4 linked regions of the Homo sapiens genome follow. The protein of the gene in region 2 purifies or fractionates together with the protein of the main gene of each other region. This does not show direct contact. Each region holds a gene or a part of one and is shown on either strand. Other genes may lie near its edges. The genes, in order: MAP2, DGUOK, HPCA and NTM.

Region 1 (7,027 bases), about 140 Mb from region 2:
ACCAAAGTGCAGGTAAGCACACCACGTAATTTTTCTATTGATTACCAATGTATCTTTGAATCACTAGTACGTAAGGAGATCCTTTAGAACAGAAGTTACAGAATAGCAATGTGAATGTTGCAAAATTTAAGAAAAAGAACACTGATTGGTTTCTGGGGTTCACATGATATATAGAAGAGGGTTCATAGAGATTTCCAAACCCTCTTCTTGTTCTGGAAGCCACTGGCATAACCATAGATATTTCGGTATTTTACATTTCAAACTGTCATGATCAGCTAACCCCTTTCCCTTTGTATCCCTTCATTTCACAATATGAATGACATACTTGTTTGATGTGAAAATGCCACATGAGAAGGGAAGAAAAATAGCTTGTCAAGAACAGAAAACACGAGAGAAAATTTAAGTTCAGTAAATACAGAACATGTTCTACACATGCACTTCCTGTATGAAATTATTACCACATCTGTTACTGTTGTTTCTCTTGCTGCTGTTTTATGCTTCTGGATTCAATTTTAAACTCCATTATCTCTAGCACATTTTGGTTGATGACTTACCTGAGGTAGCTTAGCTCTCATGATTTAAAACAATCCCTTGTGGTTTGGAAAACCATCTATGTTTGAAAATTGGGCTTAGAAGATAAAATAATCAAGCTTGTGTGTTTATTCCTCCTTAATTTTCATTCATAAAATAGAAACCCTCAGAAAAAAAATGTATCCTTATAAGCCCTCTGAATAAGTTCTAAAAAGGTATTTTTATGACAGGTACAGTTCTGACACAAACATAATAACTGTCTACAATATGCTTTATGCCATGTAGGACTAGCTAGTGAGATTTTTCAGATTCTAGGACTCATTGTTTTTAAGGAAGCAGTGAAAACGATGCCTTACTACTATCTCTGTAATATAACTCAAATTCTTGTGACATGTATAGCTTGCTTCAAACCAATGACACCTACATCTGATACATGCTTTCTCCTAAAGTATCTTAACATTAGACCAGAATAAAGGAAAATCTTCATTAGTTCAAAGATTTTAAATTTCTTTCAAAGAATGAATAAAAACACAATTTACTTTAAATGTGGCAAATTGAATACCAATGACATGTAAACACTTTACTAAACCATTTTACGTTTTCTCTAAAATTCCACAATCCTGATGACATCTTTCATCCTTTTAGGTAGGTTATAGAGTTTTTATGCTAAATCAAGAGATTCTGCTTGCCCAAGCAATTTTGCTACTAAGTTTAATGAAGCTATTAATTTGCTATTAAGTTTAATGAAGTTCTAAGTTTAATGAAGCTAAAAACCTGAGAAAATGAATTGAGGTATGTCACGTTAATTCCTAACTCCTAGCTTCAGATATATTCTTCATCCTGAAGCTTTATCAAGGTGTGCGTATATACAAGCCTTCTATTTTCAAATCCTGCCTTAGATTCTTGTTTTTGAAGGAAAGCACATGATATGATTTCTAGATGAAGAACACAAATACAAAATACTTGGAATTTTCAATGGCTAAAATAAAACCATCAGTTACCTTGATTTTCTCTTTCTCACAAAGGCTAATGTTCCTCTTAACCTTTAAAACCATCCGAAGATTTATATAGAGGCATTGATGATGTACAATGGAAAGAAAAACATTCTTTTCTGATTTAGCAATCTGTCATTTTGTAGACTACAAGCATGCCACTTAATAAATGCTAAAATAAAATATAGTGTAAGGTAAGATTATCCTAGTATAATTAAACATATAAAATAAATACTTTGCCCTGAAATTTAGAAAAAAGTTGGCATTACAGATATTTGTAGGGGTTTTTATGATGGTTTCCAACAAGTTTCATTCCTTTGTTTTACCAGTTTTATAAACTTAGGAAAAAATATGTATTTGAAGAAGAGTAATAAGTAGATAGCAGGCCGGGTGCAGTGGCTCATGCCTGTAATCCCAGCACTTTGGGAGGCTGAGGCAGGTGGATCACGAGGTCAGGAGTTCAAAACCAGCCTGGCCAAGATGGTGAAACCCCGTCTCTACTAAAAATACAAAAAAAAAAAAAATTAGCTGGGTGCACGCCTGTAATCCCAGCTACTCCGGAGGCTGAGGCAGAAGAACTGCTTGAACCCAGGAGGTGGAGGTTTCAGTGAGCCGAGGTCGTGCCACTGCACTCCAGCCTGGGCGACAGAGCGAGATTCCGTCTTGGGAAACAAAAAAAAAGTAGACAGCAAAGTAAAAATAAACCGAAGTTTATTTCTAACTGAAGTTCCTCCTAAAAGGAAGAGTTTTAGCTTCAAATTTGTGAAACTAAATTATATAGAAAAGTCGAGCAGTTTGGATCCAACATATTTAAGAAATCTCCATGACAAAATGTCAGCTAAGAGATGTAGTTCAGTAGAGTGAAAATCTTGTTAATTTTGGATATGAGGAATAAAATCTGATATAATTACCAGAAAATTTTGTTTTCTATCTTCTTTTTTTCAGCAAAAGCAAAGTAATAGTAATTTTGCAAACCACAATTTCACTTCCTGGCTTGCTTTTCATTTTCAGTATCTAAATCACTACACATTCTTGGTGGTTTTCAATAAATTCATCAACATCAGTAACAGATTTGGCAGTAACAATGTAGAAAATAGGACAAATATTTATGGGTTTAAGCATGAGAGAGATAAATAAGCAAAATAATGAGAATGCATACCACAGTTAAATTCATCGCCATCGTCTAACCAAACACACAGAATGAAAATAGGAATCCCCAGAACGTGACACTAGAGCACAATGCCAAGATACAATCACGCACTGTTATGTCTGAGCATGACAAAGAAACAGATGGTCATGACCTTTTCTGTAAGGAGGGGGGAAAAAAGAATAATGATACAAGACACTTAATAGCAAAATTGTTCATGACTGCTGAGATTCTTGGAAGAAAAACAAAATGAAGAAGCTGCTACAGTAATGAGATTTAAAAAAAAAATACATGTCTATGTTTGCCAGTCACATTGCAGAATTGAACAGTCACCTGTGGTTTTCCGCTTAACACAGGAGAGATGAGTTGGTCTAGTATATTTGATAGCAGGTTTTAAAATGAATTTCCTGGAGGGAGAGTGGGCCTGAACTTCTGTTTTTTTAGCAAGTTCAGCCTTCTTATAAACTGCTATGAATAAGAAAACACAAAAAGCATACCATCAGGAAAAAATAAACACGTGGAGCAAAACCGAACGAAATTTTATAAATAATTAGTTACCACTGTTAGGCAGTTCTGCAAAAAAGTAATAATGAATTACTTCAAAAACATTTTTAAAGAAGTGATTGTTAAATGAACCTTTTTTCCTTCTCACTTCATCTCTGGAGACTGTGCTAGGTTCCTTTTTAGCTACTTTTCTTTCAGGAGTGGAAATTCTGCCTCTCCCGGTTTTAAAAGGCTTTTCTTTTCTATGTTTCTCAAGAGATGATCTCCGAGCTTCCTTTTCAGCTTTCTCCTCTTTAGGAATAGTTTCTAACTGTTCTGTCATGATGCTCCTATCATCATCTGTGGATCAAAGCAAATCATGACAACAACAACAACAGTGAAAACATTAGTAACAAGTGTACAAAATCCTTTGTATATTTAACAAAATACAAAATAAAGAGATAAAGAGGTATTTTAAAATGTTTAAGTGAAAAAAAATTCCCATAAGGTTATTGTGTTTGAGTTAAAATAATAATAATAATAATGCACACCTTGAGTGTCCACCCAGAGGCTGTCAGCGTCCATGATGGAGTCGTCAATGGTGGTCTCATCTTTGTAATCGTCATAGGTTTCTGTCTTATATTCAGAAAGTGCAACCTCTTCTCTCTCAGGGGAAGCTGGAGCCTCTGGGGAACCATCTTTGGGTTCTGCCTGGGCTTCAGCTGCCTCTTCTACTTCAAACTCTTCTTCATCATGAGGAGATGGTCTCCTTTCCACCTCAGGCTGCTCTAGGGCTGCAAAACGCACGCTGTGGGACCCTGACTCCCCTTCATCAGTTGTGGTTTGCACTACAGTGATGAAATCATCCTCGATGGTCACAACAGACTCAATCACTCCTTTGTGTTCACTTGGGCAGGTCTCCACAAATTCCTCCCTGGCACCTGAGACACCCAGGTCAGTTATCTGAAGGGTGTCTGAGCGGAAGAGCAGTTTATCATATTCTCCCTGGGCTTCTATCTCTTCTTCCTCACTCTGAATCTCTGCTGGTTCAGATACGATCGTTTCATGCAATGGCTCTGCAACATCAGAAGGCGTGATGGATATATCTGGGGTCTCTTTGCTTTCTTCTTTTGGCCCCTGAATAAATTCCATCTGGACATCAGCTCTCTCATCTGTGGCTAAATCAGCCTCTGAAACAGCAGGTGGGCAAGGTATTTCCACTGACAATTTGACGGCAATCTCATCTTGAATTAGAGATGATTCTGGAGATGTTTCCTTCTTGCCCTCATCAGCTTTCAAGGACTCCATGGTGAGACTTTCATGCTCACCACTAGATTCATAGGACTCCTCCTTGTCTACAGCCTCCTGGTGCACCAAGTCAGGCTTGGCCACCTTCTCTTTGACTTCTGTCTCACTAACTTTAGTGCCTTCTTTCATGTGGCCAGACTCAACACCCATAAATGCATCTGCCTCCTGCGGTGCTTTGGATGAGGGGGTCATGTCCTGTGTAGCCTCAAGTTTTAGCTCTGTTGCCCTTCTATCATCTATGTTTAGCCCTGAAGCCATCTGTCCAAAGTCACTAATTTTAACATCTAGTTGACCCTGGACAGCAAAATCCAGACCTTGTTCCACCTTTTTGGATGGTTCTACCTCAGCTATCTCTGGCACTGAACTAAGACCCTTCTCTGCTTTCTCAGAGGATGCATCTGTTGGTATTGACAAATCTTTGGCCAAAGCTTGCTCATAGGTTACTCCTAATCCGAATGTTTCTATTTCATCACCAGCCTCTTCAGTTTTCTTGGCATGTTCTTTTGAATCAGCATGTTCTTCACTCTTTTCTAGTACAGTATCCAACCTATCATTAGCTTTCTTCTCTTGGTCAAACTCCTTACTCAGTCCTGATTTGTCACCAGAGATATGCGCGGATGCTTCTTTGTCAACACTGAACTCATCTTTGACTCTTCCGGCTGCTGCCAGTTTCACTTCAATCAGTGAAAGGTCTGTGGCCAAATCTCTTCGAACTTTATCATCAGTGCCTTCGTAAAAGGTACCACTCTCCCCTGATAAATTCTCACTGTCTTGAACAGGTGATGGCAATGGGACTGTGTACTTATTGAACACACAGTAGCCCAGGTCTTCGAGCTGACTGTCCGTTTTTACAATGACATGGTTTTCATCAGTTACCGGGGGCAAGCCAGTACGACTATCCTCAACCACAGTCTCTGATGGGACTGATTTCCTCCTGGCAACCTCAGCATCTGCACTCACAGAAGCCAATCTTGACCTTGTGCCTGCCAGATCTAGCATTTCAGGAAGGTCAGGTGCCATGACAGTACCATTTTTGTAAAAATCTTTGGCTAGGAAAGGAGACTCACATGATATCTCCGCTTGAGTACTTTCTTCTCCAGTAGCTTTTACTTTCTCTATCTGTTCTTCCTCTTTGCTTTCTACAGGGAAGCAAGGGGCTTTCTCCAGTGCAGGTGTGGTGGCTGGAAGGTAATCATCCCCTTCATCCATACTTCCACTAGTGTTGGTTAGAATATCGGAAGCCAGAGGAGAAAGATCATGTCCCCGACCAAAGTTAAATCCAAGGGCTATGGAATCTAGGCAAGACATCGGCAAATTGATTGACATGCTTCTTTGTTCTATTGCAGACCTACCACCAAGTCCTAAACTCCTGCTAAGGGTCAAATCATCCTTATTCTTACTGTGGAGGTCCCTTTTCTCTCCATACACTTTTGGATCAATAGTGAACATTCTTTCTTGAGGAGAACTGGGTTCTTCAGGTAAATCTGATGGATAACTCTGTGCGAGAGTGCTGTACCCTGCTTCTTGTGCTGGAGGACTGGGCTGGGATTCTTTTCCTGTTTGAAACTCCTTGTCACCATTTTTATGCATGGGAGACATGGTATCAATAGACTCATGGACACTTTCTCTAGTGTCACTCAGTTCATAGTAATCACTGCCTGGCTCAATGCTTTTTGTTGCTTCTTCTTTCAAGGCAGATGTTTCAAAGTACTTGGACATTCCTGATTTATCTTCATAAAATGGCATATCAAGCTCAGCTGATGTTGCAGCTCCAACTCCTTCAATCTTATCTTTGTCATCAACTCTCATTTCAAAAAGTTCCTGAATTGAGCTCTTTTCAATTAATGCAGATGGTTCGGTCATGGCTTTCTCCAGTGTTTTAGAGGTCATGGCTGAATCTGTAACTGCTTGCTCCAAACTTACAGGGAACGAGTCCTGTTTCAACATATCTGTGGTAGGCTCTTGGTCTTTCTGTTCTGAGAAAGTGTGCTCTGTGGAGGTCTGAATTATGCCTATTTCTTCATCTGCAGGTTTTGGGGGTTTACTCTCTTTTGGCACAGCTTCTTTGTCAGAAATGGTGGTTTTTTCTTCAAGCTTCAGCTCAGTTTCCTTTTCAGTAAGTATAGGTTCCTGTCCACTGGGGGTGAAAGTATCCCTTTGCTGCACAGTCTCTTGATTTATGGCCTCCTTTTCTTCCTCTAAAACTTTCCCCATAACATGTTCTTCTACAACTGGAATGTGAGCATCTTTGGGTAAGGTCATTGCCTCTGAGGGTGGTGCTTCTGCCATTTTGTCAGGTTTAGCCTCATGGGGCTCTTCAATTTTAAAACTATCTTTGGCAGTAGCTGGGCCACTGGTTTGTTGCAGAGATTTTTTGTCATCTGGCTGTAAAAAGGCAGGGGCAAAGGGCGATGTTTCTGTAACTATTTCATTCTTCATGACATCTAAAGGAAGAGTGAAGCTTCCCCCTTGAAAGGGACTTGGCATGGGAGAATCAAACTGTTTCCCTTCCCATTTTGGGATATCATCAAATACATCTTTTTCCCTCATGGGAGTCAGAGGGCCA
Region 2 (7,027 bases):
GAGGCCAAAGTGGGTGAATCGCCTGAGGTTAGGAATTCGAGACCAGTCTGGCCAACATGGTGAAAGCCTGTCTCTACTAAAAATACAAAATTAGCCGGGCATGGTGGTATGCCTGTAATCCCAACTACTTGGGAGGCTGAGGCAGGAGAATCGCTTGAACCTGGGAGGCGGAGGTTACAATGAGCTGAGATCGTGCCATTGCACTCTGGCCTGGGCAACAGGAGCAAAACTCCATCTTAAAAAAAAAAAAAAACCTGAATAACTGAGGCAGAAAACAGTTGTCCAATAATGATTCCCCTCAAACAGTACTGAATCCATATAATCTTAAAGATGATTTCTATCATACCTTCAAGGAATAGATCATTTCTATGCTAGAAAAGATGCAAAATTTCTCCATTTATTTTCATAACATTGATGGTAAAACCTGTCACAAACTACACATGGGCCAGGCATCACAGCTCACATCTGTGGTCCCAACACCTTGGGAGTCCGAGGTGGAAGGGTCGCTTGAGCCCAGGAGTTCGAGACCAGCCTGGGCAGCAAAGTGAGACCCTATCTCTACAAAAAAAAAAAAAAAAAAATTTTTAAGTAGATGGGGACAGTGGTATGCACCTATAGTCCCAACTCACCAAGAGACTGAGGTGGGAAGATACCTGAGTCCAGGACTTCAAGGCTGCAGTGAGCTATGATCATGCCACTACACTCCAGCCTGGGTGACAGAGGAAGACCCTGCCTAAAAAGAACCCAAAAGTCAAAACAAACAAAAATCACCATACACACAAATAATAATACCAACCAACTGTATAAATAAATATACATGCAAAATTCCAAACAACACATTACCAAATTAATGGAATAGTACATCATGACCAAAAAAAAGTTCATTCTAGAAATGTGAGGATGGTACCATTATTAAATCTATGACTAATACTAAGAGATTAAAAAGAAAAACCCCTTGTTTATCTCACTAGATGCTAAAGTGGTTTTTGATGGAAATTCAACATTTGATCATGATAAAAACAGTTACTATTCTAGTAACAAAAGGGTACGTGTACCACACGGTCTACTGAAATGAATAATAAACATTAAACTTAACACTGATATATTAGAGGCAGTTTCATTAATGACAGAACAAGATAAGGAAACTACCCTCACTGCTATTAGTTTATATTGCTCTGGAAGTTCTACCCAATGAAAGAAAACAAGAAAATAGAAATGTGGCACAGATATTAGAAAACTCTTTCAAATGATTACTATTTAGAGACAACTATTATTTTCCAAAACTTCAAGCAAATAAAAAAATAATGAGAAATTAAATCATATAAGATAAATATAACAATCAACTGTTTTCCATTAAAACAGCAATAACCAGTTTCAGAAGATGATGTGGAAAAAAGATCTCAGTCACAATAAAAACAAAATATATATTCTGCTCAGGAATAAACAAGAATACTACTGGCTAAGTAGATAACCATTTGTGAAAAAACTAAAGTCTTATAACTTGTAAAGCCACATAAAACATAAAACCATAAAAGCAACAAAAAGAAATAGATTATTTTTATACTCCTGGGCTACAATTTTAACATCAAAGGTGCTAACTATGAGGAAAAAGAAGGACAGGTTAGACTACATAAAAACTGAAATGTATTATATTGTAAAAATATATTATATACCAAGATAAAAGAAAAATGACATGGTCGGGCGCAGTGGCTCACGCCTGTAATCTCAGCACTTTGGGAGGCCAATTCAGGTGGATTACCTGAGGTCAGGAGTTCCAGACCAGCCTGGCCAACATGGTGAAACCCCATCTCTACTAAATATTCAATAATTAGCTGGGTGTGGTGGCAGGCACCTGTAATCCCAGCTACTCAGGAGGCTGAGGCAGGGAGAACTGCTTGAACTCGGAAGGCAGAGGTTGCACTGAGCCAAGATCACACCACTGGACTCCAGCCTGGGCGACAAGGCGAGACCCCGTTTCAAAAAAAAAAAAAAAAAGAAAATGACAAACAAATATATGACAGAGTTAATATACTTAACATACAATGAGTTTTTATGAAGCCATTACACAAAGATGAAGATCTCAATAGAAAAAAACAAGGCAAGGGGTTTGGACAGGCAATTCACTAAAGAACAAAAAGATACACAAAACATGGCTTTATATTAAAAAACAAGCAGTATAGCTACAATGATATTCATCATTGCAACACTGCTTATAATAGGAAGAAATTAGAAAACTAAACATTCAAAATAGAGGACTGGATAACTAAATGATAATATTCATATTATGCAGTACACTACAACCATTAAAATGATATCACTGTGAAAGGGAGATCTTGTCTATTAAGTGACATACAGGTGGCAATCAAAATTTTTGTTTCAAAAAGCAAATGTATATATATTTTATACATTTATGTAAGTATATGTAAATCTATACATTTTCTCTGTAGAAAAATGTCCATTTTACTTCTGAATAATGGGATTACAGGATGATTAGTTATCTATTGCTGCCTAACAAATTATGCCAGAATTCAGTGGCTTAAACAAAAACATTCATTATCTCAGTTTCTATGGGGAAGGAATTTGGGAAGGAGCTTAGCTGGGTGGCTGGGCCTCAGGGTTTCTCATGAAGTTTCAGTCAAGATGTTGGCTGAGGCTACAGTTGTATGAAGGCTGGACTGTGGCTGAAAGATCCAATTCCAAAAAGACTCACGTACCTGTTCACAGGAGGCCTCAGTTCCTTCCGTGTGGCCCCCTTGAAAAGGCTGCTTCCTGACATGGCAGCTGGCTTCCCCCAGAACAAGATGGAAGCTACAGTGTCTCTTATGACCTACCCTAGAAAGGTATTTCTTATTTTTGCTACTTTCTATTTACTAGAAACAAATCACAAAGTCCAGCTGCATTCAAGGCAAGAATTACGCTCTACTTCTAGAAGGGAGGAATATCAAACAATTGTGGACATGCAATCATGTACCACTTAACAACAGGAATATGTTCTGAGAAATGTGTCGTTAGACAATTTTGTCACTGTGTGACCATCAGAAAATGTACTCACACAAACCTAGATGGGATAGCCTGCTACACACCTATGCTATATGACACACCCTATTGCTCCTAGGCTACAAAGCTGTATCGCATGCTACTGTATTGAATACTGTAGGCAACTGTAACACAATGGTAAGTATTTGTGTATCTAAACATAGAAAAGGTACAGTAAAAATATGTTGTTATAATCTTATGGGGCCACCATTGTATACAAGGTCTATCATTGACAGAAACATCATTATGCAGCCCATGACTGTATTTTGAAATACACACAGGTGACCTGTGGCATACTCAGAAAAAGATATGTAATTTATTCCTGCATAGGAAAGTTAATTTCACAAATACACACACAGGCACACATACAGACATATAAAGAGACAACTTAAGCAGCAAAAATCCTCAATAGGCATGATATGCCAGCCACAAAAGGTAACACAATTCTGGGTTGGAATAAAAAAAAATGGCACCCAGAACAAGTTCCATGATACTCTGTCCCACTTAGACTACATCCAGAATGTCCTGTTCACCTCCAAGTAGCACTCTTAGTAAATTCAAAGTGGAAAGTGAACAAACTAGGACTCATCACTTAGGTAAAGTTACTTCAGAGTAAAGAATAGCCTGGAGGAAAACTGGAGGTGTTTGGCTTGAAAGAGAGAAGACTTGACCAGGCATGGTGGCTCATGCCTATAATCCCAGCACTTTGGAGGCCAAGGTGGGTGGATCACTTGAGCCCAGGAGTTTGAGACCAGCCTGGCCAACATGGCGAAACCCTGTCTCTACTAAAGATACAAAAAGTATCCCAGCATGGTGGCATGCACCCATAGTCCCAGCTACTCAGGAGGCTGAGGCATGAGAATCACTTGAACCCAGGAGTTGGAGGTTACAGTGGGCCGAGATCACACCATTGCACCCCAGCCTGGGTGACAGAATGAGACTGTCAAAAAAAAAAAAAAAAGGAGAGAGACTTGAGGGGGAGAAAGAACAGGAAAATCATTACCTTCAACTATATATAGGGTTGTTACGGCGAAAAGTTAAAAGACTTAAGAGGTAGAACTTGAACCAATGAGTCAGAGTCACAGGGGTGCAACATGGCTCATTAAAAGGCAGAACTGTTTAGTAATTAGAGTTAAGAACCAGAATGTGCCACTCAGTGAATATCCCAGGTGGCGGCAGGAGCAGTTCATGGTGCCTGAGGAGGCATGGTGCTTCTGCTCCCTCTAAGGGTCATGTCGAAACAAGTCTTTCCTTACTCAGACTGATGTGGCTGGAAACCAACTCTATGGCCTCTGCCAAAGCCATAGTCTTGACACCAGGGCCTAAGCCATGAGGTGTAAGTGAAATGTACTGTGCTTGGCATAGTACAGTGCCTGGCACATAGTACATGCTCATAAATGTTAGCTGTAACCTCTCCCATTGACTCAAAGTGTGACTGGAACCTCTCTAATATCCCTTCTAATTTCTAAGACTTTATTTAAAAAGTTAAAATCACTATAATTAGCTATTAATCCTAGTGGTTAGCTTAAGTAATAATATAAATACTTAAGTGTAGGAATGACAAAATTCATCTTCAAAGCCATCCATGATGGTTGGACATGCTTTGGGAAACCACAAACAACAGAGGCAGTCACTTAGATAGACATATAAAAACCACAAAAATCAAAACTGCACATATTCAAACAAGTCATATCCTCTCTGGTGTATGTGGTCTGCTTTCTGGAATGAAGCTATTTTAAAAAGGATACTCAAACTGGGCTACTTTACTCACTGAGAGTAAATTAAATTATGACAATTAGATTATTCACCCATGCCTGCCAACTACCCACCACAACTAAAAACTTACTTTTTGGGTGCCAGCAGCCTGGATATTCTGCCATGTTGCTACAGGTTCTGTAGCTACGTGCCATTCTGGGTAAGTTTTCGTGAGTAACTTCACAAACGTGGACTTTCCCACAGCTGCAATGCAAATAGCATGTATTGGGATGCTTCCCAAATCAGGGCTGAAGGAGAAGGCTGCTACTAAACTCTGCCACAAACGCCCAAACTCAAGGGAACAAGTATTAGTTTTCTGAATTTCAAACTCAGCAGCCGTACCATTGTCAGACTGATAACAGATCAATTCATGCTAACCAGAACCACCATAATGAATACAGCCAATAGGGAGGAAAAATTCCTTTTAAGATTTAATTTGCAATTTCCATGTCTCAACCTTCCAGAGGCAGAGCATTTAATAACAGTTGAAAATGTAAAAGTAGATGAAATCAGCTCCATAAGTTCTATCACTTGAGTCACCATTCTATTTGTACTGTGACAGTGTAAAATTTCTAAGTTTTTCAAGACAAAAAATAAAAATGATTATAATCTCATTCATTCAACAAATCTAAAAAATATTCATGGAGTGCTGACTATGAGCTCAGGACTGTCAGGAACTGTGGGTACAATGGTAAACAAAACACAGAATGGATTTTGTCGTCACAGAGCTTGTATGGGTGATACAAACGCACAATTAACTACTAACATATTGTGTTAGGTGCTAGGAAAAAATGCAGGATGGCACTAATATAGCCCAGGAGGTCAGAGGAGACTCCCTTGAAAAAATGACATCTGAGGTAAGACCTAAAAGATGACAATTCATGCAAAGGGAGTAGCATATGCAAAGACCTGAAAGAGAGAAAGAACTTGACACACAACAATACAGAAGTTTGAGGCCCTAGAAGAAGCCATACAGTATGGCTACAGCATGAGCAAGTGATGGAGAAGTGGCTCAACATGGGTGTGGCCAGACAGGGAGTCCAGGGCCAGGTCATACAGGGCTTTGTAGTTATGGTAAGAAGACTGAATTCTATTCTAAGGGCAATGGGAAGTTAGTGAAGATTGGTTTTAAGTAGGAAAATTATAAGACTCCTTCTCATTTTTAGAAGATCACTCCACTAGCTGTGTAAGAATGGGCTGAAGCAGAAGCAGGCAGACTAGTTAAAAGATATAGCAGCTTGCCCCGAGGTGATGGCAGAGGAGTGAAAAGTAGTGGTTGTTTCGAGAAATATTTTGGAGATGAAATCAACCTAGTACCACAACATTCAAGTTATCTTTTCCCATTTATACCAATGTTTGGCCCATACCTCCATGAGCTCCAGAGACTATTCAAGAACTCTCCAGACATCTCCACTTGGGACATTCCACAAACACCTCAAAGTCAACATATTTCCTAAATGAACTAATCATCTTTCCCACCAAATTGAGCTTCCTCCTGTATCCCAGACCTCAGGGTATGAACACACCATCCACTCACTGACAGAAGTCCCTCCTCTGCCAAACCTCAGTGGCCACCAAATCCTTCTGCATTTGCTTCTACATTTTTCATATTTGTCCTTTTCTCTCCATTCCCACCTCCATGCTCAAGACCAGCCTCTTATCATCTCTTGCCTTTCTGATGCTGGCCTTGCTCTCTTCAATCCATGCTCCATACTGTGGCCAGACTGAATATGAAATAACACTGCTTACAATCTTTTGACAGCTCTCTATCGGCTAACTGGCTATAGCAAGGGCAAGCAATGGAGGAGTGGCTCAAGATGGGTGTGGCCACATGGGCAGTCCGGGGCCAGATCACATAGGGCCTTGTGGCCATGGTAAGAGGTCTGAATTCTATTCTAAGTGCAATGGGAAGTTAGTGACATCTGAGCTAAGACCTGAACAAGCTTCATGACAAACTCCAAACTCTTTAACATGGTCTGCAAGACACAAGAAGATCTGATCCCTGTGTATGCCTCTCTGGCCTTGGCTTTCCTTTAGGTAGCCTACCCTCCTGCAGGACCAAACTCCAATCATGCCATGTTCTCTTGCAAATATGACTTTGCATATGCTTTCCCATTTCCTGAAGCGCCTCCTCTCCTCACCTGACCAACTCTTACTCAATCCTCAAGGTTCTGTTTAGATGAACCTCCTGTGTGAAGCCTTTCCAGATCCTGACACCTCTAAGCTGGATTAGCTA
Region 3 (6,979 bases), on a different chromosome or scaffold from region 2:
AGCAACTGTGGGAAAATGTTAATTGGTGAATCTGGGTAGAGGGTATAGGGGAGTTTTCTCAACTTTTCTTTAAATGGGAAATATTTCCTAAAAACAATTTTTAAAATGGGATTGCAAGAATATCCCCTGCCACCACATGCCTACGAGGTCTGCTGAGAGGATCAAAAGGGGTGGTGGGTGCAAGCTGCCGGGCCCTGTGCCTGGCATTCTGAGGGGCCCAGGGGCCCACCTGCACGATCTCCAGCATCTCCTCCCGGCTGATGTAGCCGTTGCCGTCCAGGTCATACATGCTGAAGGCCCACATGAGCTTCTGCTCCAGGCGGCCGCGCGAGGTCACGCTCAGCGCAATGATGAACTCCCGAAAGTCTATGGTGCCATCGCTGTTGGTGTCAAAGGTGCGGAAGACGTGCTCGGCAAACTTGGAGGCGTCACCATAGGGAAAGAAGTTGGCGTAGATCTTCTTGAACTCATCCACATTGAGGATTCCTGTGGGGCAGTCCTTGAGGAAGCCCTTGTACCACTCCTGCAGCTCCAGCTCTGAGAACTCTGTGTTCTCTCGCAGGTCCTGCAACATCTCGGGCCGCAGCTTGCTGTTCTGCTTGCCCATGGCCGCCGAGCCAAGTCCCACCTGGGTCCCCAAGGGGGTCAAGGGCAGAGAGGAGTGATCAGGCCCTCCTGGCTACTAGACACTGCTCCAGATGGGCCCCCCTGCCAACAGCCATCCCTGCCTCTTGTTTGGCCCAGTGAAAGAGAGGAACTGGCCCAAGGTCACACAGCCTAGACCCAGGCATCCTGTATCTATGCCATGCTCCACACCATCTCCCTGGACCATACGCTTTCCTGGGAGAGGGAGGAAGGGAAGGGTGGTTCACATTTACTGAGGCCCTTCTAGGTGCCAGCCACTAAGCCTTCACAAATGCACACCAATTCACTTTCGCAACAGGTTGTATGGGGATTTGCCCCATTTTACAGATGAGAAGGCAGGCTTACAGACGTGAGGTGGCTGCTTCAGGTCACACAGCCATGGCATTATGAGGCTGACTCCTAGAGTTGCCCACAGAGGTGCAGAAAAACCTTCTGATCCTCCTCCGTCCTACCCACTGCCTTCTCATTGCCTCACATGTGCCTGCTCAGCACTGAATATACCCGCAGCCCAGACACTGCCCTGTTCTCCCTCTGACAGGTGTGCCCAACAAGAGGCAGCAGAGGGAGGTGTTACTGTGGGCTCCAGAGTCAGATCACCTAGGTTTGAATCCCAGCTCCTCCTCTTACCAGCTATGTGACCTTGGGCAAGTTCCTTAAACTCTCTCTGCCTTATCTTTAAAGTGGGGTAATAACAGTACTTACCTAAGAGGATTGTTTTGGGGATTAAATTAGTTAATATGTGTGAAGCACTTAGAACCATGGCTGCATAGATAAGTGCTACATAAATGTTAAATAAATAAAAATGACTTACATATACCCAGGTGCCACAAAACTCATGCAAAAACTGTGCAAATGAATGTATACCGATAACTGTATGCTTCATAGCTCACCAGATCCACACCCTGGATCCCATGCCACTCACGTACCAGCCCACGCCCACCCATGGGTCAGCATGCCTCCACACATGACGACATTCCCTCTGCTCCACAACTCACACGAATCGACACATGGCACCACGCACAACTCCCATACCCTGTGCATCAAGACACACCAGCCCACGACCCCACATGTCTCACACATGCCATCACACGCCAACTCGCATGCCGACACCTCTCACATGGCCAGCTGCACGTGGGACCTTCAGGCACCCTTGCCATTTTTCTTTGTTTTCCTTCTGTTTTCCCAGGGGTGCTGCCAGGTCCCAGGAGAGGGAGCTGCAAACCTTCCCAGACCTGCTCGGGGCCCCTTTTCCAAGGAGACCCCCCACCAAGCCCATCCAAGCCTCCCCAACACTTACCCTTCATCTAGTCCTGAAAGGTCCCCTGAGTGCAGGTTAGATTGTGGAGGCTGAGTAGAAGGCAATGAAGAGGAAACAGCCAGCCAGTTCTGCACAAGGATGTAGGCGTGTGTGCAGGTGACCCCCACCCACTTAGGGCAAGGAGGGGCCTCCTTGTGCATACATGTGCATGAAGCTCTGCACACATGTGAATGGGTGTGTTGTGAGTGCATGTGCTCATGCATGATGTGTGCCGCTGGTTTTTGCATTGCATTTGCCTGCCGTGTCTTTCCATCTATGTCCCTGCATGTGCCTCAGATGTGCATGTGATCAGGTATGCACCCGTCACAGCGTGAGGGAATGAGCCCGTGTGGCCATTTGGAGGACCCGTGTGTGTCCTCGGCGGTGTGTCACATGCATGTTTCTGTAAGTTGGTGCCCCTCCTTTCTAGACCAGCCTCTTATGGCCCAGGCTAAGGACCCACCGGACAAGTGAGTGGGAAAGGGCTAAGGAAATGAGAAGGGCTGGGGCATGTCCCGCACTGCCCTCCTCAAGGTCCAAGGAACTGGGTCACCGGGGTGGGGGCAGAGAGATGCGCGGAGCAAGAGAGCTCCTCCAGTGCCCCCTGGGCCCTGCCACCCTCGGAGTTGCCCCTCCCGGTTGCAAGAAGATTCAGCTGCCCGCAAAGACCTCCAGTCCCCCATATGGGAAGAACCCCCTCAGCTCGACCTGAGAAGCCAGCCCCGGGGACCCGCTCCAAACCTCCCTCAGCTCTGTCCCCCAGCCCCCGCCTCCATCCGCTCAGCACTAGGACAGCGCCCGGCGCGTGGCCCCTCCTGGAGGGGGCGCTCCAGGGCGGTCGAACGCGGTTCCTAGGGGCCGGCCACTCGGCGGTCAGGACCCTGGAGAGCACCGCGCGCTTCCCAGTCCCCAGCGCCCCCGCCACCCGGGGCAAGGATTCCCGGGAAGCCCGGGAGCGGCGGTGTTGGGAAGCCCTGGACGTGGGCCCCCAGCTCCGGGAACCCCCTGCCCTCATCCCCCGGCCCCGGCTGGAGCTGCCCCCACTCACCCAGCGACGCGGAGACACCGACTGCGCAGGGAAGGCGGCGCTGCTGCGGCGCGCGCGGCAGGGGCGGCAGGAGGGGCGGGCGGGACTGCGAGGGAGACGCCCCGCAGCGCTCACCCGGAGCCCCTCCCCTGGGGGGGTCCCCGCCAGCCCTGGGGGCTGGGGAGCGGCGCGCTGGGCTCCGCCCCCCACCCCCGCCCCGGAGAGAAGGGGACGCCCTCAGTTCCCCGGTCCCCCTCGAGGGAGCACCCTGCCCGGGGAGGAGGATCGCGGCGCCCCTCTCCTCGGCACCTCGGCTCTGGTGGCCGGAATGGAGGGACACGGTAGTGCCAAGAGGTCTCTCTCCTGAGCCGGGGGCGATCCCAGGCCACTCCGCCCCGCTTCCTTCCCCATACCCACCTGGGCTCTGAGCCGCACGTCGCTTCGAGGGCCGAATTGGCACCCTGGGCACCCTCCCTGCTCCTGCGCCTCAACTCCCAACTAACGGAGCTGGGAGCGTGGAGCGCCCATTCCTCCAGCTACTGAGGTCTTCGGGGTAGGGGACCAGACACGCCCCCTTCCCCACCTCCACCTTGGCGAGCCGGCCCCCATGTCAAACCCACCACTCCAGACCTCACCCCGACCCCCCTCTCAGAATTAATCCCACCTCCCAACTTTGGTGTCAGCTGCTCCTCCCACTCCCCCTTCCAATCAAGGAAACCCCCTCCCTTCCTCCCTCCCCAGCCTCTGATTGTGCAGGCCATGACAGGAGGGCAGAACATCTGCCTGGGGATCCTGTGGCACCTACCCACTGCCTGCCGACCGCACAGCTCCTCTCCAGAGTCGATGACCCCTAGCCCAGCTCCTCCTGCCCCCAGCCTCAGCAACATTCTCCGCATGCTGGGCTGAGATTTTGTCCTTTTTCCATTTCTAGGGGTTGGTCCTTATTGTCCCCATGAAGAAATGGGCTCAAAGGGGTTAAGTGATTTTTCCAGTGTGTGCGCCCTCATCCATTCATTCCACAAATACATATAAAACACTAGTTCTGCGGCCAGCATTGTTCTGTCTAGATAGTGGGACTACAGGCGCAGACAATAAACAATGGACACAATATACATGTCGATATTAGACATGTGTTTTTAAACGTTGGGATTTGGGTGTGGCAGTTAGAATGGTAACTGCCATTGGGGCCATCCAGGGCCTTGGGGCCTATGACAATGACTTTAGGCTTTTTATTCCAGATGAGATGGGAAGTCCTGGGGGGCTTTGAGCAGAGTGAGAGGGTGTGACCTCCATGTGGACAGCTTCCTTGGGTTATTATGTCAAGAAGAGACTTTGAGGAGTTGGGGGCAAGGTGGGAGAAGGGGCCATTTCAGGCTGAGAGATGGCCGGGGTGGGTCTGGTTTCTGGATTTACTTCGCAGGTAAAGCCGGCAGCATTTGCCATCTGCCCAGAGGGCCCTTCCCAGCCCAGAGTTTCTTCAGCATCGGCAGCTCAGCCCCTCCTGGCACCCCAGGGCTCCGCCTCCAGGCTCCCAGACTGAGCCTCTCAAGTCCTCAGAGTCTAGCCTTAGTCCCTCCTGCTTGGAGGCAGGTGGGGAGGTCTCGGCTGGAGGAACTGAGGAGCCGGGGTGGGGTGGGGACAGCTGGGCTCTCCGGAACACCGGCTTCACTGTGTGCCTTGGCTCTGATGTTGGGACCCCCAGTGGAGGCGTGAGAGACACCAGATGAGCGTGGGTGGTTCCCAGCTGCCTCCTGCGTGAGGACCTGGGGGCTGGGAGAGACTCGCTGCTCAGCCCCCACCCCAGGGCCCTCCAGTGGCAAGCTCCCTCCCATTTCCCCACCAGGCCTGGGGGGCCAGCTGTGCTGGGGTCGGGGAGACGGTCCCACCCTCCCTCACCTCCTCAGCCCCCTCCCCCATCACCCCTTCCTCTCTCTCCTGAGTGGTCTGGATCCTCCTCTTTATCCTTGGGGGACTCAGTTTATCCCCATCTTGGGCTGCTCAGCTCCCTCTTTGCCTTCTCCCCACTTCCCCAGTTCAGCCTCCTGCAGGCTCACCCCCTCAGGGGCTGACTTCTCCCCACCCCCACCACCAACCACCTTTCTTCTTTGAGGGTGACTCTGGTGCCCTGCCTTCGGACCCCCAGTCTGTGTTCTGTCTCCCCAGTAGATAGGGGTTTTGGAAGGCAAGGCCATGTCTCGCATCCCCATGAGCCCCTCCTGCCTTTGTCTTTCCCTGCACCTAGACTGTGTAGGTGGTTCTGGAGGCAGAGTGTGGGCCCTAGTGGGTTCTGCTGCTACTTCCCATCAGCCACCTGCACCTTTCAGAGGGACTAAGAAGCATTGCAAGCCCACCCCCCAACAGCCAAAGAAGGTTCAGGGCTCCCCACACTGCACAACACGGCCTTTGGTCCAAGCCCTAGTGCTCTAAGATATGGCCATGAAAAGGGGGGCTGAGGGGCAGCTGGGCAGCGGGCCTGGGTCCCTCGATCTGGACAACCCAGAGCAAGTCTCTTCCCCTTTCTGAGCAGAGAGTTCAGACAGGTGATGTAAGCATGAATGAATGAGGCCTCCTGACCCTGGAAGCCTCTTGTGTGTGGGGCTGTGTCCTTGCTGGTGATACTTAGTCCCTCCCACCTCAGACTGAGGCACCCAGAAGGAGGGAGAGGCAGGGGTGGGGTAGAAGCAGAGGCAGGTAATTGAGAGAGCCAGGCAGTGGCAGGGTCCATGGAAGGGCGAGCAAGTTCCAGGGGAGGGGAAGTCCCCAGCATCTGAGGAGGCAGGAGAGGGCACATAAATCAGGGCCGACTACCCTCCTCTAGCACTACCAAGGGAGGGACAGAACTGCTCCTGGGATGCCAGAGAGAGAGAGACGTGATATCTCAAGCACCTATAGTGTATAGAGTTCTCTGCACACGTCACCTCACTGGATCTTCAATGATTCTGAGGAATCAATAATGTTAACTGCCATTTTACAGATAGGAAAACTGGGGCTCAGAGAAGTAAAGTCACCTGTCTGAGGTAACACAGCAAGAAAGCAACAGTGTCAGAATTTGAACCCAGTTCTGGCCAAGTGTGGCGGTTCACATCCATACCCCCAGCACTTTGGGAGGCTGAGGAGGGAGGATCACTGAAGGCCAGGAGTTCAAGTTCAGCCTGGGCAACGAAGTGAGACCCCGTCTCTACAAAAAAATGCAAAAATTGGCCAGGCGCGATGGTTCACACCGGTAATCCCAGCACTTTGGGAGGCCAAGGGGGTTGGATCACGAGGTCAGGAGATCGAGACCATCCTGGCTAACATGGTAAAACCTCGTCTCTACTAAAAATACAAAAAAATTAGCCGGGCATGGTGGTGGGCGCCTGTAGTCCCAGCTACTCAGGAGGCTGAGGCAGGAGAACGGCGTGAACCCGGAAGGCAGAGCTTGCAGTGAGCCGAGATTGCGCCACTGCACTCCAGCCTGGGCAACAGAGTGAGACTCCGTCTCAAAAAAAAAGCAAAAATTAGTTGGGCATGGTGGCAGGCGCCTGTAGTCTAAGCTACTTGGGAGGCTGAGGTGGGAGAATTGCTTGAGCCCAGGAATTTTGAGGAATTTGAGCTATGATTGCGCCACTGCACTCCAGCCTGGGCAACAAAGCAAGACCCTGTCTCTAAAAAAAGAAAAAATTGAACCCAGTTCTGTGTGACTCAGGAGCCCAGGCCCTCTCTGGAAACCTCTCAATGAAGTGGGTGAAGGTGGCCCCTCCCCAGCCCCCTCAGAGGCCCAGCCACCCTACCCCCATCCCCTACCCCCCATCCCCCACCTTGTTGCCTCTTTGGTCCCAAACGGTTTGGAAAATCCTGACAGGAGCAGATGGTGGGACAGATGGAGGGAAAAGCATTTCGGGGCTGAATTACACAAACAAACATTGAAAAAGTGATTAAAACCCCAAGCCACCCCTTTCCAAAAGGCCCTGCCCACCCCAGCCTAGAGCACAGCGGGCTCTGAGGTGGGGGCCTGGGGGTCTCCGAATACC
Region 4 (7,027 bases), on a different chromosome or scaffold from region 2:
CAATAATTAATTTTTATGCCTCAGTTTACTTCTTAGTACAATAAGAAGGTCGAAGAGGAAACGCATAAGTGAAACAGAATTTCTAAGTAAGGAAACCATATTTATCAGAAAAACACGCTCCAGTCTGCTTGATTCTTCTTTCTTGGAAGAAGGGGAAAGCCAGCTCTATTTCTTCATGAGTTTGTTTTTCCCCTTTGTGTCTTAGTTCTTTCATCTGTAAAATGGGCTACATGAATATAATACATCTCACTAGAAGCTGCCAGAATGTGTCCTTAAAAATTTTTTTTTAAAAAAACAAAACACTGCTTTTCATTTGGGAGGATTATGATAAAACCCAGTGAATCTTAAAACTGATTGACGTGGTTCTAAACAAAATTCAATTTTCGATCTAGAGACTAGAAAGAGCTTTAGGTTTCTGACTGACCTCATAAGGAAACAAAGCCAAGGCTGGCTGAAGACGTGCACACAGCGTGGGCGGCCATTCACTTGCTCCTGGCCTGCAGTTTCTCATGCTGCTCTCCTTCTCAGAATGCCCTCTTCATTGTTTTTCCTTCTCAGCCTCCTGGCCTCCCCCACTCCTTGCTCTTACTCCACCCCACATACACCTCAGGACTCTCTAGCATCCCCTATACCACCACCTCTTTTTCAATGAAAATGTTCTGAACACAGGCAGCTCTTGCCCATTTCCCGTTGTTCATCCCCCTTAAAAATGGCTCTTTGATAACAGCAATTGCCATGGTGCCTGGCTGTACTGAGCTACTGATCCCTGCACTGATATGTCATTTGATAAAGCCTGGAAATGATCATCTTCAGTGACTCACAACAAATATCCCGAGGATGCTGTGACAATGGGAAGGAAGGGAATAGTCCCTTCTCTTTTCTCCTACAGTAAAAGAACAACTTGGGCACAAAGGGAGGGCTAAATTGGGTCATGGACTCTTATACACCGCTACTGATAGTGTCTGGAACAGGAGGGGAGACCTACTAGCTGCAGCTAACTTATTAGCCACTCCCAGGGCCCTGAGAGCCTTCCTAACTCCTTTACGCAAGCCTGAGAATGTGGTAAAAATAGCTTCAGGCAGAACACATTATGTTCTTGGCCTATAAAAAATTCACAGGCCTTACAATGCTCCTGGTGGCCTTTCCTTTGTGATTTTGCCTTCCTAAAAAAAGTTACCTTTCAGATCTGTTGGTTGGCCAGTGATAATTCTACATGGTGACATTAAAAACGTAGCTGAAATCCATTAATGTTAAGAAAAGACTTCTTTGCACATTTGCCCCCTATAGAGATAAGTTCAGAAGAGGATTTTATAGAACTCGTTTGCAACAATGTGGAATCAGGACCCTGGAAAAGTTTCTCCTGGAGATGGGGGTAGGGGTGGGATAGGAAAGAAGGAAGCTTTACCTTTTGTCATCCTTGTACCACTGGAATTCTGCTGAGGGGACTGCTGAGGCTTCACACTGCAGTGTCCCCTTTTGTCCCACGGGGACACCTGTACCCTTGGCTTCTGAAATGTATGGTGGATCTGCAAAAAGAAGATGTCTCATAGCCGCCCCCCCACCTTTTTTTTTTTTTTTTTTGAGATGGAGTCTTGCTCTTGTGGCTCAGGCTGGAATGCAGTGGCATGATCTTGGCTCACTGCACGTTCTGCCTCCCGGGTTCAAGCAATTCTCCTGCATCAGCTTCCCAAGTAATTGGGATTACAGGTGCACGGCACCATGCCTGCCTAATTTTTGTATTTTTAGCAGCGACGGGGTTTCACCATGTTGGCCAGGCTGGTCTCCAACTCCTGACCTCAGGTGATCTGCTCGCCTCAGCCTCCAAAAGGGCTGGGATTACAGGGCACTGCACCTGATCTACAGCATTTTAAAATGAAGAAGGCTGCTTCATTTGTTGATTTTGTTTCTCAGTCTCTGCCCTGGCTCTGCTTACTTAGAAGGTAAAACTGCTACATAAATTGTACCAGAGAATAAAAACCTTTTTGATGCCGCTCTAAGAAAAAGCTGGGTCTTCCTTTCATGTACTGCTTTTGTTCTCCTCTGTACAGAGTTGAAATGACCATGTACTCAAGCATTTTTTCTGTTTAAACTTTTTAACTTTCATAGGATGATGCCAGCCCATCAACCCTACACTCCACGGGTTGACAGTCAGCACCTTTAATCAGCCTTCTAGAATTTCTGCACACCAGGTTCTTGCCAAAAGTATATAACCTCGAACTATTCAATTCCCATCAAAAGCTCAGTTGCAAGAAATAATATTCAAGGAGAATTGCCTGAAGGATATACAGATCAGTCATTCTTGGTATTCTAAAACAGATCCCTGAATCAAACCAGAGCAAGTGACCAAGCTAGGCCTACGCACTTGGTTTGCATTCATTTGACGTCTTTACCAAACTACTCTTCACATTCTACCAGTTTATATTAAAGGGTATTATGAAAAACAGCCACAATAAACTGGCTATTCTATTTAATGCAGAAATATTGTACATGATGTTGCTGACTCTCTCCCAAAGTGCTCTATTTGTGGAGACCCTGAAGAGAATTTTCTCTAGGGTCTCAGTACCACGAAAAGCAGTGTTTCTCCCAAGCAACTAATTTGCTTTTATCTTATGGACAACATAAATCTTAAAGCAGGTGATGTTTCCCTCTTTGCTTTAGCAAGGCTGAGCCAAATTCTGCACCTGCACCTAGCAGTCTTGTGGTAATATTTCATGTGCTGAGGTTTTCCTAGCTTTCACTCATTTTCCTAAGCGTATTTTTTCTTTGCTTCTGTTTCTTTATGTTTTAAGTTCATCTTTATAAACTGTAAATCCTCTTAAGTCCCTTTGTAAAAACTTGTGATATGATTTTTAAAATGACAGCATTTTTATACCTATTGCCTTGCTTCTTAAACCGCTTCATATTGACTGGGTTCACATTGTAACACAAACCTAAATCTGAAAGACTGGATATTCTCCTAGATACAGTATCCTTCTCCTAACTCCACGCCACCCAAGTTTTGAAGGGAAGTCATCTCGTTTGCCGATTTAGTTATTGAGTTCTATTGCTTCGTAAGTCTTCCTGGAATGTGCACAGCAGAGAAAACCTCCAGAATGTTGTAGGGAGCTAAGGCAAGGTACATAATGAGGGACCCAGAGGGAAAAGAGTGAAAGGAGGTAGCAAATTCAAGTAGGATTGATGTCAGAGACAATCTGGAAGGCTGAGAAAGGAGAATGAGGGGTCCACACAGCACCTTCCAAACTTTTTGGATTCTGTATCTCTATTAGTAACAAGCAAATTTATTGTTACATCCTCTAAGATCTATATCGTAACTATTTGTATGTATACCATGCACATCTATAATTGTAAAATAATGAGATATAATAGACATACCATAAATGGAAGTTTGAAACTTCCTTCATACACTCTAGCACATGGTTTCTTGTCCCATTATGGAGATGTCTGGTCTAGACAGTGAGAGGCTCCAGCACAACTGTATTGTGTGAGTAAATTATGGGAAAATTTTGGATTTGAAGACGTGTTTAAAAAATTATGAGCTGAATGCCATTTAATGATCTGCCAGCCATGCAAGTCAAGTTTGGCATTATTTTCAGTTACTTTAGCTACTTTTTCTTTCAGCGTGACACTGTGACACCTTGAAGTGTCAAAAACTCGAGTTTGAAATGTTTGCTCCTGAAAGCAGAGTGTGGAAAGTGGTGCTGCATTCTTCCCACCCTAAGTCAGTAGCTGGCTGTGCCAATGGGCTCTGGGTGGTGGCTGTGACAACAGGCCAGCCTGATGCACGTGCAGGGCGCGTGGTGGTGAGAACACTTACAGTTCACGGTGACCTTTACTCTCCGTACCACGGGCGCGGCCACGTCATTGGAGGCACTGCACTCGTAGTCCCCTGACTGCTCCCTGGTGATGCCCTGAATTTCCAAGTATTCGTCTTCACTCACAAAGCCAACCGCTGCGGGAAAACCGGTAACGTGTGGTGAAATACAAGGAAAAAAAAGACCAAACATGTTCACTTAGAAAACAAAGTATAAAATGGTTATGTCTGCAGATAATTTGCCAGTTGTAAGTTCAGATTCTGAGGAACTGTGTGGGTTATCCCTCCTCCGTCTCTTCTACACCTCCGCACCACCAACTTTTCCTTGGCTCCCCAGTGGAACAGCTGAAATGTTTGTGTTCCTAACTGAACAAAGCACAGTGCCTAGAGAATTACTGGTCCCAATAAGTGATTAATAATTTTGACATTTACACTGCCTGTATCTTACCAAGCCGTCGTGCTCTGGGATCTGAGTCAGGCACCTTAACTCTTTCTGATCTCAAGGTATCACTTAGACTGAGCCTTGAATATAAAATTTATGACTGCACACTTGAGCATAAATTAATTGAAAATGCCACACCAGCAGCTACATACACATACACACACACACGTGCATCACAAAGGTAGCAGAAACACTAACATAAAAAATTTAATTTTCTGTTTTTTGACTCAGACAATTAATTGGATAGGCAGAAATCAACGTGCTAAACTTCGATCTGCTAGAGCTCCTAGGTACAAGATCCTAAAGACAGACCAGCAATGGGACTCCGCACTCGATGCCTAGTTGTAAGCATGTCAGAGATTCATCAGGCGACGTGGCTGCGAATCCACTCAGTCCCCTAATCATTGCGGGACTCATTGTCTTCAGTGAAAAATTATGAGTAATAATAACAACGCTTCACATACCAGACTCTGTGCCTGACGTCTGGCCATGAGCACTCAGTTATTGAAAGACCAAGATATTTAAGGCTAGAGGAGATTTCAAAGTTCTCTCCCAGAGGCACCTGAGCCTTCGCTTCCTTGCCAAAAGACAATGAAAAACAAAAGTTAGGGCTTACATCCCAAGCTATCCTCCCTTCTCTCTTAAATGAGGGTAATTAGAAAGACAGCATCCTAAACCTGGATACCTTTAAAAGGAAATGAGGTGCTAGTAATTAATGATTATTAGCAGACAACAGGCATAAGGCTGTCCCTAGCAATTGAGAAGCATTTTCCCAAACATAATATACATACAATCCTAATACCTCACAGGGTCACGGGGCTATTTAGACTAACACACAAACATGCCTACATATATATGTACACACTCACACACACACATGCACGAAAGCACTCCAAAACTCTCGTGTGCTGCCCACCTGTTGATTTAGTTATTACTCCTATAATCTGGTTGGAGGCACAGCTTCAGGGGGTGCAGCACTGTATTAACATGAGTGGCCCAAGAAAGGGAACAAAGGGACATTTCTCTCCAGGTGAGAAAACCCTTCCATAATGCCACGTGTTTCTGCTGGCCCAGAGCACGAAAACAGTAGCTGTAAAAAACCGATACAACAAGGGATGATGTGTGCGGTATGTAAGGGATGATTGTATGTGTTCCATAACAGTGTTGAAGTCACTGTTTTGTCAAGATAACCACAATAACAATAACAACAGCAACAACAACAAGACCATGGTCTTGTGAACAAGGGCCACTGCCTTGTTCCATTCGATCAGCACTCTTTGGCCATGATAAGTCTGTGCCACTGCCCAGCAGTAGGCCCAACCGGGGCCTCATCTCATACATCTTCATGCCATATGCAAACTACACTATGTATGTACAGACGGTTTCTTGCCTCTGTTACATACAGAAGAGGAAAAGAACAGCCTATGTCCATTACAACAAACAAGAAAGAGATACTAAATTCACAAGACAAAGAAGGAACCTCTTCATAAGTAGAAAACACAGCCAAAAAGACCAGGATGTGAAGAGGACAAACAACATTAACCCAAATAGACTCATAGTTCCTACCAGTAAGACACTTCTAATGGTCTCAGTAGCCTTTATGAATATTGTTTGATAAGCATCTTTAGGGGAAAGGTACTAACCTTGATTTGAGGATGGGTGGAAGAATTGAGAAGAGCTTTAAATGAAGAATCTGTAATTCCTCTTGTGTTGTCCTTGTTTATTTGCTACCAACCACGGGCTTACATTTGTCAGATCTTCCCCTGCCAGAATGCTATAATTACTGTGCCAAGCATCTCGGAGACCAGTGTCACACTTAATATTCCCATTAATTTTAAATGGTAGTCCTTGGTACATATGTGTGGCAATTGGTGTCATATTTTAATTAGGCTTGCCCTACACCATCTGAAATTAATAATAGCTCGAATTACCAGTGTAATTTATAAATTAACAGTGCCGCAGCATTAGGAAATAAATTAGCTCTGGACAGCTGTTTCTGGATTGAGCTCCAGGGTCGGAGCAGGGACTGATAGGACCTCAGGTCTCCTGTGAAGCTGTGTATTACATCACCAAAGCGGGGAAACAAACAAAAAGACAGAGGTTCTCTGGATCTCTTGTGCTCTCCAGCTAAAGTTCATGCATCTGTTTCAATTCCATAATTCAAATATGCTCTTTTGTGGCCACAGCGAGATTTGCAGGGGCCAACTTGTCATGGACATCCAAATGGAAAGGCCTGTTGGAGGCATGACAGTCCTGGACTGAAATGCAGTTACACAAATATTAAGGCAGTCAAAATCGAGAACTCATCAGTTTTCTGTGGGGACATGGGTGCCACATTAATTTATGTGTAGTTTTGTATATTTATGTCAGGTGATCTTGTGTAGGAAAGGACGTTGGGTGGCTCAAGTTTTGGGGAAGGCGTATGGTCTCTACTGATCCAAATTTCTAATTCCAGAGAAAGGAGATTTTTCCTCAAGTCATCCTGCAGGAACAGTGAGGCTTAATCCTACTTTCCTATGTTCCCTGGACCAAATGTGCAATCCCAGAGAAATCACAATGACTTCATTGCTCACCAGTTATTACATGTACACTTTTTGATTAAGTTGGGTAAGGCATGTAAAAAGTGACTTGTACATAGTAATATGCTTAATAAATTTAAGCTTTCATTGTCATTATGCTCACTTTTCTCCTCACCCACCTTTTTCTCTACTAGAGGCATATATGGCAAAACCAGAGAGAAAGTTGGTCAGTTTACACATAACAAAATAAACTTT

Evidence for each region.
Region 1: the proteins of DGUOK (region 2) and MAP2 purify together in Homo sapiens (affinity purification with mass spectrometry; 3 studies listed by BioGRID and IntAct, with this or other methods). This does not show direct contact.
Region 3: the proteins of DGUOK (region 2) and HPCA purify together in Homo sapiens (affinity purification with mass spectrometry; 3 studies listed by BioGRID and IntAct, with this or other methods). This does not show direct contact.
Region 4: the proteins of DGUOK (region 2) and NTM purify together in Homo sapiens (affinity purification with mass spectrometry; 3 studies listed by BioGRID and IntAct, with this or other methods). This does not show direct contact.

What each region holds. Positions count from the first base shown.
Region 1 is NC_000002.12:209,693,028-209,700,054, reverse strand, and holds part of MAP2 (microtubule-associated protein 2), read right to left. Parts: coding exon 3,705-7,027; intron 3,514-3,704; coding exon 3,307-3,513; intron 3,139-3,306; coding exon 3,004-3,138; intron 1-3,003. UniProt on the Homo sapiens protein: The exact function of MAP2 is unknown but MAPs may stabilize the microtubules against depolymerization. They also seem to have a stiffening effect on microtubules.
Region 2 is NC_000002.12:73,936,878-73,943,904, reverse strand, and holds part of DGUOK (deoxyguanosine kinase, mitochondrial isoform a precursor), read right to left. Parts: intron 4,996-7,027; coding exon 4,883-4,995; intron 1-4,882.
Region 3 is NC_000001.11:32,882,527-32,889,505, reverse strand, and holds the start of HPCA (neuron-specific calcium-binding protein hippocalcin), read right to left. Parts: upstream 3,016-6,979; 5' UTR 2,991-3,015; intron 2,009-2,990; exon of another isoform or gene 1,943-2,008; intron 629-1,942; 5' UTR 608-628; coding exon 230-607; intron 1-229. UniProt on the Homo sapiens protein: Calcium-binding protein that may play a role in the regulation of voltage-dependent calcium channels. May also play a role in cyclic-nucleotide-mediated signaling through the regulation of adenylate and guanylate cyclases.
Region 4 is NC_000011.10:132,304,611-132,311,637, reverse strand, and holds part of NTM (neurotrimin isoform 9 precursor), read right to left. Parts: intron 5,344-7,027; exon of another isoform or gene 5,170-5,343; intron 3,950-5,169; coding exon 3,815-3,949; intron 1,527-3,814; coding exon 1,406-1,526; intron 1-1,405.